Regions from separate parts of the Homo sapiens genome. Here region 1 is linked to region 2. The links come from fine-mapping of genetic effects on gene expression. A gene starts in region 2. The other region holds a variant in brackets. All regions are shown on one strand. Distances are between the middles of the regions.

Region 1 (8,592 bases), 35 kb before region 2:
AACATTAAGCCCCCAGATTTACATTAACATTTCTTCCTTAAAGGGAACATCAAATGGTTTAGACTTCAGTCAAGATTCTCTACAGCCCCAGTTCATAGCCAAGTGGCCTCAAAGCCTCAGATAGTTAAACCACTTCCTCCAAAAGTCTGTGAGTCCCTTCATCTGAATACAGGGTACCCATGGAGCAGGGACTGGGGAAGAAGACAGTACATAGGGTGGAAAGTATTGCAGTTGCTTGGGTGGTGAGAAAGGAAGTAGGCGTCCCAAGACTACCTTGAAGCAGGCAAGAGGCAGTCTGCAGTGGTCTTCCAAATGCTAACTCTAGACCGTTTTATCCACGTCCCCAGGTATTTACTTCAATAAAAGGGTAAAACAACATCACTGGGCAGACAGGATTTCATTTCAAAAGACTTCAGTACAGTGCCCTCTTAGACTTGAGAGAAGAAGCCATTCAGGCTGCCTCCCTCTTATCAAATAACAATTTAATTCTGATTCAGAAACAAAATTCTTGTGACCCCCACACCAATCTACTCTACCCCAGCTCTTAGTACTTGTTCCCAAAAGGACAGGGGAAAGAACGAGGGGATGGGGAGGCTACCTTAAAAGTAAAGCAACTCTTAAGACTGCTGGGATAACTGTTCCCTTAAATCTAAGAAACACTGCAGCTGCCAGTCAACACTACCGGTCTCTGAACACAGCAAAATGCCGACACCTGCCACCCGGCATCCGGGGGTTCTTTTATTTTTTGGTAAATGTGGCAGGAAAGACTCAGAGAGATCAACTGCTTCATGGGAAAGAAAGGGAAGCCCCAGGGAAGAGAGACAAGAAGCATCGTGCCTATCCTAGGGTACTTTGTGTGTCTCCTCTCTATGCACTGAAAGGGCTCTTTGTGTCACACTCACACTCACACACCCGGCGAGTCTGTGTGATTTATTGGGGGAAGGAGGGGCAAGAAGGGTGATTTTATTATCCCTCTTCCCAGTGAGTCCCAGCACATCTCTGCTGGGCCCAAGCTCGGTGGCCTCCTTCTGGCCCAGTCCCCTCCGCCTGTGGCCGCAGAGATAACAGAGGGGAGGAGCCCAAACAAAAACAGCCATGGATCTAGGGAAGTAGAGAGGAAATCCAGCGAGGGAGCCGGAAAGGAAGGAGAAAAGAGCTGGAGGGAGCAGAGGGGTGGGGGACAGAGGAAGAGGAGGGAAGGCTCCAGCACAGGGGAAAGGGGAAGGGTGGGTGGGTGGTGGCACAGGAAGAGTGAAGGGGAGGATGGGGGAAGTGCAAGGGAGGTGCCAGAAATAGGCAGGAGGATGGGTTGGAGAAGGCGACCGCCGCCGAGGGAGGAGGCCGAGAGGTGGAGGAGTGGGGCAGGGGTTGGGTGGGGAGGGAAGCAGCACGGGGCATCAATTATTAAGTGATTACATCATCCCTGACATTAAAACAACACACACAGCCCCAGTCCCCGCGGGGGGCCCCAAAAGGAGGGCGGGGGCGGAGTCTGGGCCAGCCTCGCCCCCAAGCCAATTCCCATTTTCACCCGGCGCCCGCTTGCGGGCGAGGAAATGGGGTCCCCATCCCCGCGCTGCCTCGGGGCCGCACCCCGCAGGGGTGTCCTCCGGTGCAACCGCGGGAAGACCCCAAGCACCGACTCCCCGGCAGCCCCGCGGAGCGCCCTGGCGGCCAAGGGACCGCAGCACCGGGCCCTGCGGCGGGGGCGGCGTGCGCGGGGGCGCCGGCGGCCGGGCTTCTCCGCAGCATCCCCGAGGCCTCCCGCGACGCATCCCCGCCGCCTGCTTACCTGCGCGGCGCTGAGGCTCCGGAGCCCACTCACATGGTCCTCTCCCCGCCCTCCTCCGGCGCGGCCGAGGCGGCTCCGGGGGGTCCCCGGCGGGCCCGGGAGCCGGTGGGCCTTCCGAGAGCACCGAGGGGGCGGCGCCGGGGTGTCCCCGGCCCGGCGGCCGAATCCCTCCCTGGCGCGGGCGGCGGCCGCCGGGCGGTGCGGCGCGGGCGGCGGCTTTGTGTGCGCCCGGGCGGTCCTCGGTGCGCTGGGAGAAGCGCGGCGCGCCCGGGCGGGAGAGGACGCGCCGCTCGCACAACAACCTCGCCTCTACTCTCGCCGCCGGGCGGCGGGCGGGTCTCGAAGGCCTTCGGCTCGCGGCGACCCCTCCTCCTCGCCCGCGGCAGCCCCCTCCTCGCCGGCTCCGCTCCTGACAGATGGCGCAACTGCAACGACGCGCCGCCGCCACCAGCGCGGCTGCTCGCTGCTACTCTTGCTGATGCTCTGCCCCTCCAGCTCCGGAGGGGAGCGAGGAGGGGGCGGGGCGCGCCTCGAGAGTGACAGGCCCGGCTGCCCTATCAAAGAGCCCCTTGGGAGCTGCGAGCCGCAACCATTGGCGCCTGGGGCGTGGGCGGGACGGCAGTAGGTGGGGCCGCCGAGTGGGTTGAGCGTTACTGTGGCAGCGGGCATCCCAGGGTGCGTGCGGTGCAGGGTGTGCAAGAAAATGCGAGGTTGGAGGAGGAGGTCTGTGTGTTTTTAAGGATTGTGTGGAGTTGTGAGGTGGCGGAGTAGGGCGGGAGAAAGAGCGGAGAGTGTGAACTGCAGTTTCCGCTTTGCGGAAGGTTGCAGCTGCTGCTGCAGATTGGCACCTGCCATTCCCCCAAAACCATGGGAAACTGCCTCGAGACAGGGCTATCTTGCCTTTCTGGTGTCTTTTCATTTGAGGGTGAGAGGATGAAATGGAAAATTGGGCGGTGATAGCAGCGTTTTCTTTGATCAAACTGAAAAGAGTACGGAGCAAAGTAGAATCCTGTCCTGAAACGTGGAAACGCACAACAAATAACAATGAGGAGGAGAAGGAGATTAGGATCATTTTATCAGTCCCCTATTTCTGCGGACACTCATTTATATTTTTTTTCTAGCAAAAGTCTGGAGGAAGTATTACTGAAATAGGGGGAGGGGCCAAGCGGCGACTAAGGAACCTGAAATGACAGAGATTTGTTCGTACATTCCCCGCCCCACCCCCAAAAAACCTCGTTTAATTGTAGTCATTGGTTGTCTTTGGTTTCTCATAACATTCAAACTTCTCATGTTTTTTTCCCCTTCACTGAATCTGAGCTTTTGCTCATATTTCCCTTGATGAAATAATTGCCGGTTTAGTATACAGTTGGGAGTGCATCGGTCTTTATTTCCTATCCAGCTTTTCTATGGCAGGATGTAACTTCATAAAAAGAAACACTTTGGCTTCCTGATTTTCTTTATAGGTAATTCCTGTTTACTGAAAGTTCTGCTTTAAGGCATACTCAGAATCGCTCTCCTTAATGATTTTGGCAAGAACCCTACCTTCCCCCTCAGCAAATCTAATGTTCTAAGAAATTATAAGTGAATCAGCTTCTGCTTCTGTGCTCAAAATCTATAATATTGCCTTTCCGGCCCACTACTTGTTTTTACTGTAGTTTAAAAAAATCTGTCCCTTTTGCTGACTTTTTTCTTTTTGTACACACTACTTTTTAAGAAAAGTTGCTAACATTTATTAAATGATCTGCATCCTATGGAGGAGGAAACTGAGGAAAAGAAAAGTTAAGTAACTAACTCAAGGTGACAGTATACAGAGGTTACTGGATTTTTTTCCTTTTCCTTAAACAAAATGACAAATTAAACCATGTTTAAATTGTGTCTGGAAATTCCATAATCCCAAGAAATGGAACCATAGCTAGGACTAGGATATTTCCATACAAGAGAAAGCCAGCTTCATTTAGCCAAGAATTGCTTATCTCAAGAGCAGAGGCTCTTCGTCCTCAGGGCTAGTCCGCAATGGCTGCTCTGGGTTTATTTGGATTGGGATGCAGAGGCAGTTG[G/T]GTAGAGCAATGGTTCTCAAACTTTGACATGTATCAGAAATAACTGAAGGGGCTTGCTTAAACATGAATTGCTGTGTTTAACCACCTGAGGTTCTGATTTAGGGGGTTTGGGATGGTGCCCAAGAATTTGCACATTTAGCAAGTTCCCAGGTGATGTTGATACAGCCAATCTGGAGACAGCACCTTGAGGACCATAGTTCTAGAATTGGGCTGTCCGAGGAGGTAGCCACTAGCCACATGACTGTTAAGTACTTGAAATGTACTTCAGTATTGGAAATTTGGCTACTGCAAATTAGGATGTGCTGTAAATGTAAAAGATGTATTAGATATTTCAGATCAAGCATGAAAAATGGAATGTAAAGTATCCCATTTTAATATTGATTACATGTTAAAATGATAGTCTAAATGTACTGTGCTAAATAAAACATTATTAGAGTTAATTAAATTGTTTCTTTTATTTTTTAAATGCGTCTACTAGAAAATTTTAAATAACCTATGTGGCTCAAGTTATATCTCTATCGGGCAGCACTGGTCTGGAGTTGTTTCTGATTCCAGCTCCACAGTTCACTGTTGGGAGCGCTTTGATGAAGCAAGTCGCTTATCCTTTTTGAACCTTAGTGTCCTCATACGTAAAATGGGAAAAATAGTAAAACTGTTCTCAAACTATTCCGGACAGACTAAGTGTCATATGCTCTCAAGAAAAAAACACTCTTAGGCTATATATCTCCTTGAAATCTCATGTTTAGTTCAATCTATCTTACGCTAAATCTGGAAATCTGGAGTAGGTGGGATAAGTCCTCTCTCTCTCTCTCTCTCTCTCTCTCCCTCTCTCCTCCTCTCTCTCTGTTTCTTCACGAGAAGTCACTTCTTAGTGTCTGCAACTGTAATAGCTTCTTGATCTAATTAGTGGACAAAGAGACAATGTGATTAAAATGACAGATTAACCTGCTCCCATCAAGACTTCATCCTGTTTTTTGTAATTCTTTGCTTACCTACTTTTTTATCTGTTGCCCGTCTTAAATGTAGCTTTAAATGGATTTGGACTCCTCAGGAGGATTTGCTAATGGTCTGAACAAGTGAATAGAGCACTGCAAAAGATTTGTATACTATTCCCGTTTTGATCTTTTCTGCCAATCTCTACCAAGAACTTGATTAAAGATCTGAGACGCTGTCCCTGGCCTACCCAAGGTAAGTAATATTGTCTTCCACAACCACCAGTTTTGTTTTCTTATGAGTAGCTTCTATTATACAAATTAGAATGTAGTCATTGTTCTAGAACTTCTCTTTGATTTTATTGATATTGTTTATATATTTTGTATTTTTCTACTTGTTTTACCTTAAAGTTTCCTCTTTCTATTCTGGCTTTCTTGAACTTGTCTCATCTGAATCTTATATCTTGCTTTTAAAGTAACTTTTTTTTCTTATTTTTATTAGCTAAAACATTTTCTTGTCTTATTATTTTATTTTAGTTTTAATCTTCTCTTAAATGTCAACTCAACAACAACACATATGGCAAGGGTAAAAACCCTCAATGTAGAGTTTTTACAAATCAACAAGAAAATAAAGATGAACGTTCGAACTGAAAAATATGTGCAACAGAAACAAAACCCAAAATGGCCAGTAAATGTGATAGGAGGTTCAACAGGAAAATGGATATCCATACCCTACTAGTGGAATTTTTAATTGGTACAACATTGCTGGAAGGCAGTTTAATAGCATTTGTGAAAAGCCTTTTAAAAAAATGTATACATTTGACTTAGCAATTTTACTTCTGGGAAAGAATGGAACAAATTTGCAAATACACAAACACAAGCGCACATATCATGGGAATAATTGGAACATTGTTTATAATAGTGAAACACTGAGAAAAGTTCATTGATAAGGGATTTGGTGTGTAAATTATGTTATATCTATAATAGAATACTATATAGCCATAAAATTATAACATTGCCATTTATTTATTTATTTGTGTGGAAAGATGTTCACAACAAATTAAAATTAAGAAGAGCTAATAAATTAGTATTGTGTTTGTATGTGTACATATGTATGTTTATATATATGTATTAATACACATATATTTCCATTATTTTTAAACTTATTTATATGTGTAAATTTTCATAGAAAGCAATACATACACAAAAATTTTAATGATCATTTCCTCCAAGTAATCATATTTTAGGTCATTGTTATTTTATTTTTTATCTTTTTCTTAATTTCCTCAACTTTTTACATTGGGCATTTATTATGTTATTAGAAAAAACAATAAAAACTTATTTTAAACTTGTACCTTTTTTTGCTACTTTAATTCTCGTTTTTCTTCCTCTGCCTCCTGTCTGCTGTTTTTCCTCCCTTTTGAAGGCATATTGCCCCAGGGTAGTGTTCAGGAATCAAGACCAGGACCAGAGGGAGGCCTTCTGCTTCCATCCACCCACAGACACCCTTCTTGTTTCTGGTGGGTCTTCTGGGACTTGCAGGAATGATTCTTATAAAACTTCACTTTGAGGCTAGGCATGATAGCTCGTGCCTGTAATCCCCGTGCTTTGGGAGGCTGAGGCCAGAGGACTGCTTGAGCCCAGGAGTTTGAGACCAACCTGGACAGCACAGCAAGACCCCATCTCTACAAAAAAAATAAATGCCAGGTGTGGTGGTGTACACCTGCCGTCTCATCTACTTGGGAGGCTGAGATGGGAAGATTGCTTGAGCCTGGGAGGTCAAAGCTGCAGTGAGCTCTAATTGCACTGCTGTAACAGAGTGAGACCCTGTCTCAAAACAAAACAAAATGAAAAAAACAAGCAAAAAAACCCCTTCACTCTTAGAGTGGGACACCACTGCTAAAGTGGCCCCAGGGCTAACCTGTCTGTACTTGGCATACCTGGTTCACTGTTTACCTCTTTCTTCTGATGCCTCATATCAAGTCCATACATAAAGAGTTACATATTTTTATATACACAATCTTTAGAACACAGCCAATGGATTTAGGGCATTTTGGGTCCACAGCTTGCCATGAGCCAGCAGGAGATGGTCCTGGAAAAATCTCATGTGGGAAGGACATTCCATACAACACCCCAGCCTGAACTCAGAAAGGAGCGTAGGTGATGTTAAACCTGCCTCTGGAAGGAAGATACCTGTGGCTCTTCTGAAGTTGAGATTCTGGCCCTACTTTTCTACCATTGTCTCTCTTGTTAAATTGTGTCCATACTGGACAGCTGGTCCTCCTGACAGGCCACAGCAGAGCCCTCTTGGCATTTGGCTTTCCAGTTCCCTTTTCTCTTAAAAAGATGGAGGGTGGACTGACTAGATAGGAGTTATTATGAACATGGTTTTAGAACCCAGGTGCACTGAACCTCTTTTGGATGCTCTCAACATGTCAGGGTCAGTACTGGGCAAGCCAGGCATGCTGGGGAGGAAGAGAGGCCTATATCCTAAACAGACCACAGGGAGGGTGAATGGGATGGCACTGACTGAAAATGCGCTTCTTTAATTCTTTGCCCGACTCCCCAAAGGTGGCTTGGATTATTAGCTTGTGAAGTTCAAGTGCCTGAGAATGGGTCTTAGTCAACCTTGGGGTTCTAGATGGAAACCCTTCTAATTTCATAGAGTTATCTCCCAACACACCTCCTGCAGGGACCCCATAGGAGCCTAACAAAGGAGGCTGTTCTGTCATAAGATGGCCTGTCCCTTTCTTCTGCATACTAACCAGCCATACCTTTCACTCTGGCCCTTTCTTGACTCCTCACTGTCTGCTATTTCCAAGCTCTACTCAGTGCAGTGATGGTATTTAAGACTCCTCCAGGGTGGTGGAGCCAATAGAACACCCCACACTAGTACAGAAAACTGGATCAGAAACCTTTGGACTCCCCTGTTTGCAGGAACAGGTTGATTAGGCCTGATCTTCTTTAGGTGAGCTGACCCTGACTTGACACTCCACGGGAGACCCTCAAGAGTGACACTGTGAGGCTAGCAGATGCTTTTCATTTTGTTTTTATCTGATAGAGCTCCTAGAGTGTGCCCTCAATGATTCAGTTATTTTCCTGGTCATAGCTTCTTGTAGTCCTAAAGAAAAAGAGATAATGCCTCAGCTTTCTAATTAGTTTAGTGATCTACATCTGTGTGAAATGTGGACTTTATGACATTTATCTTGCTACTTTCAAGAATTCAAATATTCTGTCTGTCAAGTTGTCAAGGGAAAAAATGAACTGAAGGAGGAGGAAATTATTGTATCAGTCAAGGTTCTTGGTTGCAAGCATCGAAAACCTACTATGTCTGACTGGGCACCGTGGCTCACACCTGTAATCCCAGCACTTTTGGAGGATGAGGCAGGGGGATTGCTTGAGCCCGGGAGTTCGAGACCAGCCTGAGCAATATCATGAACCTCCATCTCTATAAAAAATACATAATTAGCCAGACAAGATGGCGTGAGCCTGTAGTCCCAGCTACATGGGAGGCTGAGGTGGGAGGATCACCTAAGCCTGGGAGGTTGAGGCTGCAGTGACCTGCAGTCCAGCCTAGGCGACATGATAAGACCCTGTTTCAAAAACAAAACAAAATGACAACAACAACAAAACACAAAAACCAACACAAAGAAAACCCTACTATGTCTAATTTAAGCAGAATAGGAATTTTTTTAGGAAGCTATTGGTTGGCTCATAGAATCAATTGGAAGACTTAAGAACCAGGCTCAAAAAGAAAAAAAAAAAAAAAGAGGGAACCAGGTATCACTACCCAGGGGCAGAATTGAGAGCT
Region 2 (8,592 bases):
CAGTGGTGATATCCCCTTTATCATTTTTTATTGTGTCTATTTGATTCTTCTCTCTTTTTTTCTTTATTAGTCTTGCTAGCGGTCTATCAATTTTGTTGATCCTTTCAAAAAACCAGCTCCTGGATTCAATAATTTTTTGAAGGGTTTTTTGTGTCTCTATTTCCTTCAGTTCTGCTCTGATTTTAGTTATTTCTTGCCTTCTGCTAACTTTTGAATGTGTTTGCTCTTGCTTTTCTAGTTCTTTTAATTGTGATGTTAGGGTGTCAATTTTGGATCTTTCCTGCTTTCTCTTGTGGGCATTTAGTGCTATAAATTTCCCTCTACACACTGCTTTGAATGCATCCCAGAGATTCTGGTATGTTGTGTCTTTGTTCTCATTGGTTTCAAAGAACATCTTTATTTCTGCCTTCATTTCGTTATGTATGCAGTAGTCATTCAGGAGCAGGTTGTTCAGTTTCCATGTAGTTGAGCGGTTTTGAGTGAGATTCTTAATTCTGAGTTCTAGTTTGATTGCACTGTGGTCTGAGAGATAGTTTGTTATAATTTCTGTTCTTTTGCATTTGCTGAGCAGAGCTTTACTTCCAAGTATGTGGTCAATTTTGGAATAGGTGTGGTGTGGTGCTGAAAAAAATGTATATTCTGTTGATTTTGGGTGGAGAGTTCTGTAGATGTCTATTAGGTCCGCTTGGTGCAGAGCTGAGTTCAATTCCTGGGTATCCTTGTTGACTTTCTGTCTCGTTGATCTGTCTAATGTTGACAGTGGTGTGTTAAAGCCTCCCATTATTAATGTGTGGGAGTCTAAGTGTCTTTGTAGGTCACTCAGGACTTGCTTTATGAATCTGGGTGCTCCTGTATTGGGTGCATATATATTTAGGATAGTTAGCTCTTCTTGTTGAATTGATCCCTTTACCATTATGTAATGGCCTTCTTTGTCTCTTTTGATCTTTGTTGGTTTAAAGTCTGTTTTATCAGAGACTAGGATTGCAACCCCTGCCTTTTTTTGTTTTCCATTTGCTTGGTAGATCTTCCTCCATCCTTTTATTTTGAGCCTATGTGTGTCTCTGCACGTGAGATGGGTTTCCTGAATACAGCACACTGATGGGTCTTGACTCTTTATCCAATTTGCCAGTCTGTGTCTTTTAATTGGAGCATTTAGTCCATTTACATTTAAAGTTAATATGGTTATGTGTGAATTTGATCCTGTCATTATGATGTTAGCTGGTTATTTTGCTCGTTAGTTGATGCAGTTTCTTCCTAGTCTCGATGGTCTTTACATTTTGGCATGATTTTGCAGCGGCTGGTACCGGTTGTTCCTTTCCATGTTTAGCGCTTCCTTCAGGAGCTCTTTTAGGGCAGGCCTGGTGGTGACAAAATCTCTCAGCATTTGCTTGTCTGTAAAGTATTTTATTTCTCCTTCACTTATGAAGCTTAGTTTGGCTGGATATGAAATTCTGGGTTGAAAATTCTTTTCTTTAAGAATGTTGAATATTGGCCCCCACTCTCTTCTGGCTTGTAGGGTTTCTGCCGAGAGATCTGCTGTTAGTCTGATGGGCTTCCCTTTGAGGGTAACCCGACCTTTCTCTCTGGCTGCCCTTAACATTTTTTCCTTCATTTCAACTTTGGTGAATCTGACAATTATGTGTCTTGGAGTTGCTCTTCTTGAGGAGTATCTTTGTGGCATTCTCTGTATTTCCTGAATCTGAACGTTGGCCTGCCTTGCTAGATTGGGGAAGTTCTCCTGGATAATATCCTGCAGAGTGTTTTCCAACTTGGTTCCATTCTCCCTATCACTTTCAGGTACACCAATCAGACGTAGATTTGGTCTTTTCACATAGTCCCATATTTCTTGGAGCCTTTGCTCATTTCTTTTTTTTTTTTTTCTCTAAAATTCCCTTCTTGCTTCATTTCATTCATTTCATCTTCCATCGCTGATATCCTTTCTTCCAGTTGATCGCATCGGCTCCTGAGGCTTCTGCATTCTTCATGTAGTTCTCGAGCCTTGGTTTTCAGCTCCATCAGCTCCTTTAAGCACTTCTCTTTATTGGTTATTCTAGTTATACATTCTTCTAAATTTTTTTCAAAGTTTTCAACTTCTTTGCCTTTGGTTTGAATGTCCTCCCGTAGCTCAGAGTAATTTGATCGTCTGAAGCCTTCTTCTCTCAGCTCGTCAAAGTCATTCTCCATCCAGCTTTGTTCCGTTGCTGGTGAGGAACTGCTTTCCTTTGGAGGAGGAGAAGCGCTCTGCGTTTTAGAGTTTCCCGTTTTTCTGTTCTGTTTTTTCCCCATCTTCATGGTTTTATCTACTTTTGGTCTTTGATGATGGTGATGTACAGATGAGTTTTTCGTGTGGATGTCCTTTCTGTTTGTTAGTTTTCCTTCTAACGGACAGGACCCTCAGCTGCAGGTCTGTTGGAATACCCTGCCGTGTGAGGTGTCAGTGTGCCCCTGCTGGGGGGTGCCTCCCAGTTAGGCTGCTCGGGGGTCAGGGGTCAGGGACCCACTTGAGGAGGCAGTCTGCCCGTTCTCAGATCTCCAGCTGCGTGCTGGGAGAACCACTGCTCTCTTCAAAGCTGTCGGACAGGGACATTTAAGTCTGCAGAGGTTACTGCTGTCCTTTTGTTTGTCTGTGCCCTGCCCCCAGAGGTGGAGCCTACAGAGGCAGGCAGGCCTCCTTGAGCTGTGGTGGGCTCCACCCAGTTCGAGCTTCCCCGCTGCTTTGTTTACCTAAGCAAGCCTGGGCAATGGCGGGTGCCCCTCCCCCAGCCTCGCTGCTGCCTTGCAGTTTGATCTCAGACTGCTGTGCTAGCAATCAGCGAGACTCCGTGGGCGTAGGACCCTCCGAGCCAGGTGCGGGATATAATCTCGTGGTGCGCCGTTTTTTTAAACCGGTCCAAAAAGCGCAATATTCGGGTGGGAGTGACCCAATTTTCCAGGTGAGTCCGTCACCCCTTTCTTTGACTCGGAAAGGGAACTCCCTGACCCCTTGCACTTCCCAAGTGAGGCAATGCCTCGCCCTGCTTCGGCTCGCGCACGGTGCGCGCACCCACTGACCTGCGCCCACTGTCTGGCACTCCCTAGTGAGATGAACCCAGTACCTCAGATGGAAATGCAGAAATCACCTGTCTTCTGCGTCGCTTACGCTGGGAGCTGTAGACCAGAGCTGTTCCTATTCGGCCATCTTGGCTCCTCCACTCCCCTGCTCTCTAAAATATCTTTATAGTTAAATGCAATGTAATATAGAATACAGCAGACACAACAGAAAATAGCATTGTTTAAACAGCATTTTAAATCCTGCTTTGTCCAATCATATTTCTATAATGTCTGTCTTTTAACTTGGCTTCACCATGGTCTCTAAACTCATCCAGGAGGTGGCCCCTGCTTGCACCTCTGCCCTTCTGCCCTCCTGCACCTCTGCCCTTCTGCCCTCCTGCCTTTCAGTTCCTGCAGGCCCCAACTCTCCACTAGCTGGAGGGTCTTGGCTTGCTCCCTCTTCCTGGCATACCCTTCTCTGCTCTTTGTGTGTCTACCATCTTTTGCATCTCAGCTCAAATGTCCCCGTCTCCGGGAGGGCCTCCCTGATGATGTTATCTTAAATAGCACCACCTCCAAATTACTCTTTCTGACGTCACCTTGCCTATATCCTTTATTGCATAAGTTGGTAATTATCATGCTTATTTACTTGCTTTTTCAGATTTTAGCTTTTATATGTTTGTTTGTGTTGTGTCTGTCTCCATGTTAGAAAACAGTGCCACCTCTTCTCCAGGTAACTAGAGAGTCCCAGAGTTCAAGTGTAAAGACTGAGGGCATCATGACCTTCTGCAGGGGGCCTGTAAATGGATCAGAGAAGGGGTATTAGGTTGGTGCAAAAGTAATTGTGGTTTTGGCTGTTACTTTTAATGGCAAAAAACTACAGTTATTTTTGCACCAACCTAATACAAAGGAGGAGAAGTTGTTGGGCTCAATAGTCTCTCTTCTGTTCACTGAGTGGCTCAGGCCTGAGATAAGCAGTATCTAAGGACCCAATAATTAGGGATTCACAATGTTTTTTCAGCCTTCCCCCAATCCATAAATCCGTAACATGTATCCCAATGTGTGATTTTCAGACATTCAAATGAAAATGCTTTTTTAGGAATGCATCCCATGGAAAACTAGGAGTCCACCTATATGGTCTGAAAAATGCCTGCCAGTAGGCCCTTAGAATGGCCTGGGCACAGTATCTTGCTTCCTTTACTTGTCTTTTGTCTTGAGTACACACTGTGCTGCCCCTGCATTCCAAGTCCTGCCATTTCTGTGGGCAGCAGAGAGAACCTAGGAACCTGCTTCTTCTAATAGGAAACATACCTCCCAGACCTTGGCCCCAGCAGACAATGTACTCCCAGTTGAGCAGAAATGTGCATCATTATGTCTTCTAACAAATGTTGCTTTTTAAACTTTTCTCTTTCATTTGAGCACCCCTAAGGAGGGAGCAGGGGGAAGAAAAGCAACAGAAAGGAAGATCATTCATAATAAAAATGATAAGATACACATTTGGGGTTCAGAAGATAAGAGGAACTGGTGTAAATTTACAACAGCAGTTTCTAATTGTAGTCAGATTGCAAAATAGGAATGGATATATGACTCAAAGGGATTAAAAACATAAATAGTAAATAAACATCAATGATGTTCTGCTTAAAAAACATTTAAATATATTCAGACTCAAGTGATTTAGTTCATATCACCATATCCCCAGTAAATTAGAAACCATTAAATGTTGTAGAAATTTATATTTGGCAGAGCTGAGGACAAAATAGCATCATTAAATGATGTAGATACCTTGATGATTAGAGAATTTCCTGGAGAGAATATAGTTCACATAGGAGCCACCAGATTGGCCATGGTCCTTGCTCTGATAGTCGCATGTTTGACAATTTATTCTAAAGAAGTTCTTAGAAGAAAGAAATGCTTATTTGCACTAGGACGTTTATAGCTATTCTATTTGTGTGACAAAACAACAACAAACACAAAACCAACTGGAAGTCATGAAAATGTCCTATAATTGGTAACATAGGTATAATTGCTACATTGATTCAATATTTTGGCATGAAAAATGGTAGGTATATTGACGATATGGACATATGAGAGAGCAGAGAGCATATTTTAAATAACACGAAGTGAAAAAATATAACAGCATTGCACAGCGATTATAATGCTGTGCATATATCTTGAAGAACATAATCATGTAAAAAGTGATTATCAGAAGAGGTTACAAAAGCTTGTACTGGATATTTATGGAGATGGGATCCTTTAGTTTTTTTTTTTTTTTAAATAGAATTGTCTCCCTGTTTGCGTCTCTTTCATTGTAACACTGGATAAATATATTATAATTTAAAACTTTAGCAAATAGAATTTTTAAATAAACTCCATATTGAAGAGCGTGGTGATTTTCCCACTCTCCATAGTCAGAAAGGGTAAGAGTTCTGATGTGCCTTTCTCTGCTGGGCGAGTGTAGTGTAGGAGAGACACTATTCCAATCTATTGCCAATCCTATATGTAGTGAGGCAGCTGCGGAGAGAGAAAGCTGTACCCTGAGATCTTTTCTGCCTTAGTAACCAAACTCTGATTTTTAGCTGAGCGCAGACTCACATGCAGTAAAGACTGTGTTTTCTGACCTGCTTTCCATTCCTGTTCAATTAGGTGACAGAGTTCTGGTTATTAGCGTGTAGCAGATACGTTGTGAGTAGCTTCCAGGAAGTGTCCTTAAAGTGAGAGGGTGGGTGTTCTCTCTTTCTACTTCCAGTTCTCAGATGTGATGGCTGGAGCTCCAACAGCTGTGCTGGCTCATGAGCTAAATGCTAAATGCTGAGGAGAGTAGAGCAACAAGACAAAAATCTGCTCCCTGAGATACCGCGGGACACCGCTTCAGTCCTAGCTGCAGAACTCTAGAAATTTTGCTTAAGTGAATAAAAACCTGTGCGTCCAAAGTACTGTTACTCCCAGCCAAACTGAATCTGAAATAATATAGCCGCCTTTTTCAGCGTACTTATAAGTCTGTATACTTTGTTTCCTAATTTTAAAGAGGAAGAGCATCTTAGAGTTTCCTCTCTAAGTTTTCTCACTGCTTTAACATTTTAAATAATTTAAAGTGGATATCTCCCACTATGGACCAGTGAATGATTAGACCCTTTTGCCCCAAGATTTATCCAGGGTCTTAAAAAATTATTTTTAAAAGTTACTTACTTTTGTTGTTGTTGTTGTTAGAGTCTCACTCTGTCACCCAGGCTGGAGTGCAGTGGCTCCATCTTGGCTCACTGCAACCTCTGACTTCCTGGTTCAAGCAATTCTCCTGCCTCAGCCTCCCAAGTAGCTGAGATTACAGGCACCTGCCACGATGTCCAGCTAATTTTTTTTTTGTATTTTTAGTAGAGATGGGGTTTCATCATGTTGGCCAGGCTGGTTTACAACTCCTGACCTCAAGTGATCTGCCTGCCTTGGCCTCCCAAAGTGCTAGGATTACAGGTGTGAGCCACCCCGCCTGGCCGAAAAGTTACTTACTTCTTGATCCCAAAGTAATAAAAGCTCCTTACCCAAAAAAGATAGAAAATATAGATAGGCAAAAGGAAGAAAATAACTTAGAATACACTTCCCTACATACTCACTGTTAATATTTTTTACTGTTTTTTACATGTATGTTGTACCTACATTTGGTAACCTGCTTTTTCCACCCACTAAATTGTGCATACACTTCCAGATCATTGAATATTCTTCTAAATATCATTTTAAAAGAATGCATTTATTCCATTTCATAGCTAATGTGCCATACTTACCCAATCCCATAGTTTTGGACATTTAAGAAGTTTTTATGTTTTTGTTCTTATAAATAGCACTGTTATGGATTGCTCTTTAGCCTAATATTTGCACATATCATATTTACCCAATAATAAACTTTATAGGTTAAAAGGTAGGCAAAATTATATTGTCACATTATCCTTCAGAAACTTGTACCAATTTATCTCTCTTCCACTCCTCCTTCACTGATAATATAAGAGTATCACATGCCTTGTAACTTTACCAACACTGGATATATCTATCTATTTATTACAGTCTTCAGCTATGTTCCTTAATTTAAAAAATTGTGGTAAAATGTATATAATAAAAGTTATCATATTGACCATTGTCAAGTGTACAATTAGGTGGCTTTAAGCACCTTCACATTGTTATGCAATCATCACCATTATTCATTTCTAGAACTTTTTCATCATCACAAACTGAAACTCTGTACCCATGAGACAAGAGCTCCCTATTTTCCCCCATCGACAGCCCCCGGCACCCACCATTCTATTTTCTGGTCTCTGAATTTGACTACACTAGGTACCTCATAGAAATGGAATCACACAGTATTTTTTTGTGTGTGTGACTGGTTTATTTCACTTAGCATAGTGTTTTCAAGGTTCATCCATGTTGTATCATGTGTCATAATTTCCTTCCTTTTAAAGGCGCTATGTATATATGTATATATATACATACACATTTTATGTATATACCACATTTTTATCCATTCATCTATCAATGGTTACTTGGGTTGGTTCCACCTTTTGGCTACTGTGACTAATGTTCCTATGAACATGGGTGTACAAATACCTCTTCTAGTCCCTGCTGTCAATTTTTTGGGGGGGTATATACCCATAAGTGAAATGCTGAATCTTATGGTAATTCTATGCTTAACTTTTTGAGGAATGGTGCCATACTGTTTTCCATATTGGCTTCACCATTTTACACCCCCACAAATAGTTCACAGAGGTTCCAATTTCTTTACATCCTAGCCACTGCTTATTTTCTGTTTTTTTTGTCTTTTGTTTCCGATGGTAGCCATCCTCATGGACAATATTTAATTGTGGTTTTGATTTGCATTTCCCTAATGATTAGTGATTTTAGCATTTAAAAAAATGTGCTTATAAAAAATATAATATATATTATATATATTTATATATAATATATATTTCTTATAAGCACATTTTTATATAGTTTTATATATAATATAATTATATATAATAATAAGCACATTATATATAATATATAAACATATTTATATATAATATATTATATATAATATATATTTAATATAATATATTATATATAATATATATTTATATATTATATATAACGTATTTATATATAACATATTATATATAACGTATTTATATATAACATATTATATATAACGTATTTATATATAACATATTATATATAATATATAACATATTTATATATAACATATTTATATATAATATATAACATATTTATATATTATATGTAAAATATATATTTTTATAAGCACATTTTTATTATATATAATATATATTTTATATATAATATATATTTTTAAAAATGTGCTCATAAAAATATATATATTTATCTCTATATATGTGTATATACACATATATTTCTATATATGCTTATATATATATATATATATATATATATATATACACATATATACACTTCTAGTTCCTGCCTAATCAAATCAGAGTGTGGTCCTTAGACCAGCAGCATCAGCATCACCTGGAAGCTTGCTAGAAATGCAAATCCTCGGGCCTCACCCCTAGACCTGCTGAA

Direction of the effects. Positions count from the first base shown, and alleles are read on the strand shown. Sizes are in standard deviations (SD) of each study's normalised expression.
In carriers of allele T in region 1, the expression in macrophages of the gene that starts at base 3,567 in region 2 tends to be higher than with G alone (large effect, 1.0 SD a copy in Alasoo 2018).

The links. PIP is the estimated chance that this variant, and not a neighbour inherited with it, causes the effect.
Region 1: its variant is fine-mapped to the expression of LINC02527 in macrophages (Alasoo 2018, PIP 0.95).

What each region holds. Positions count from the first base shown.
Region 1 is chr6:111,871,176-111,879,767 of GRCh38, forward strand. FYN (FYN proto-oncogene, Src family tyrosine kinase) reads right to left here and starts at 2,277. Exons shown (of 14, transcript NM_002037.5): 1 at 1,793-2,277. It overlaps LOC102724646 (a long non-coding RNA gene), which reads left to right and starts at 2,277. Exons shown (of 3, transcript NR_168402.1): 1 at 2,277-2,515; 2 at 4,876-5,037; 3 at 5,319-6,135. RefSeq lists silencers at 1,397-1,796, 1,947-2,196, 2,317-2,406 and an enhancer at 1,849-2,348. The variant G/T (reference allele first, on the strand shown) is at 3,850.
Region 2 is chr6:111,905,831-111,914,422 of GRCh38, forward strand. LINC02527 (long intergenic non-protein coding RNA 2527) reads right to left here and starts at 3,567. Exons shown (of 3, transcript NR_149099.1): 1 at 3,096-3,567. RefSeq lists an enhancer at 2,278-2,964.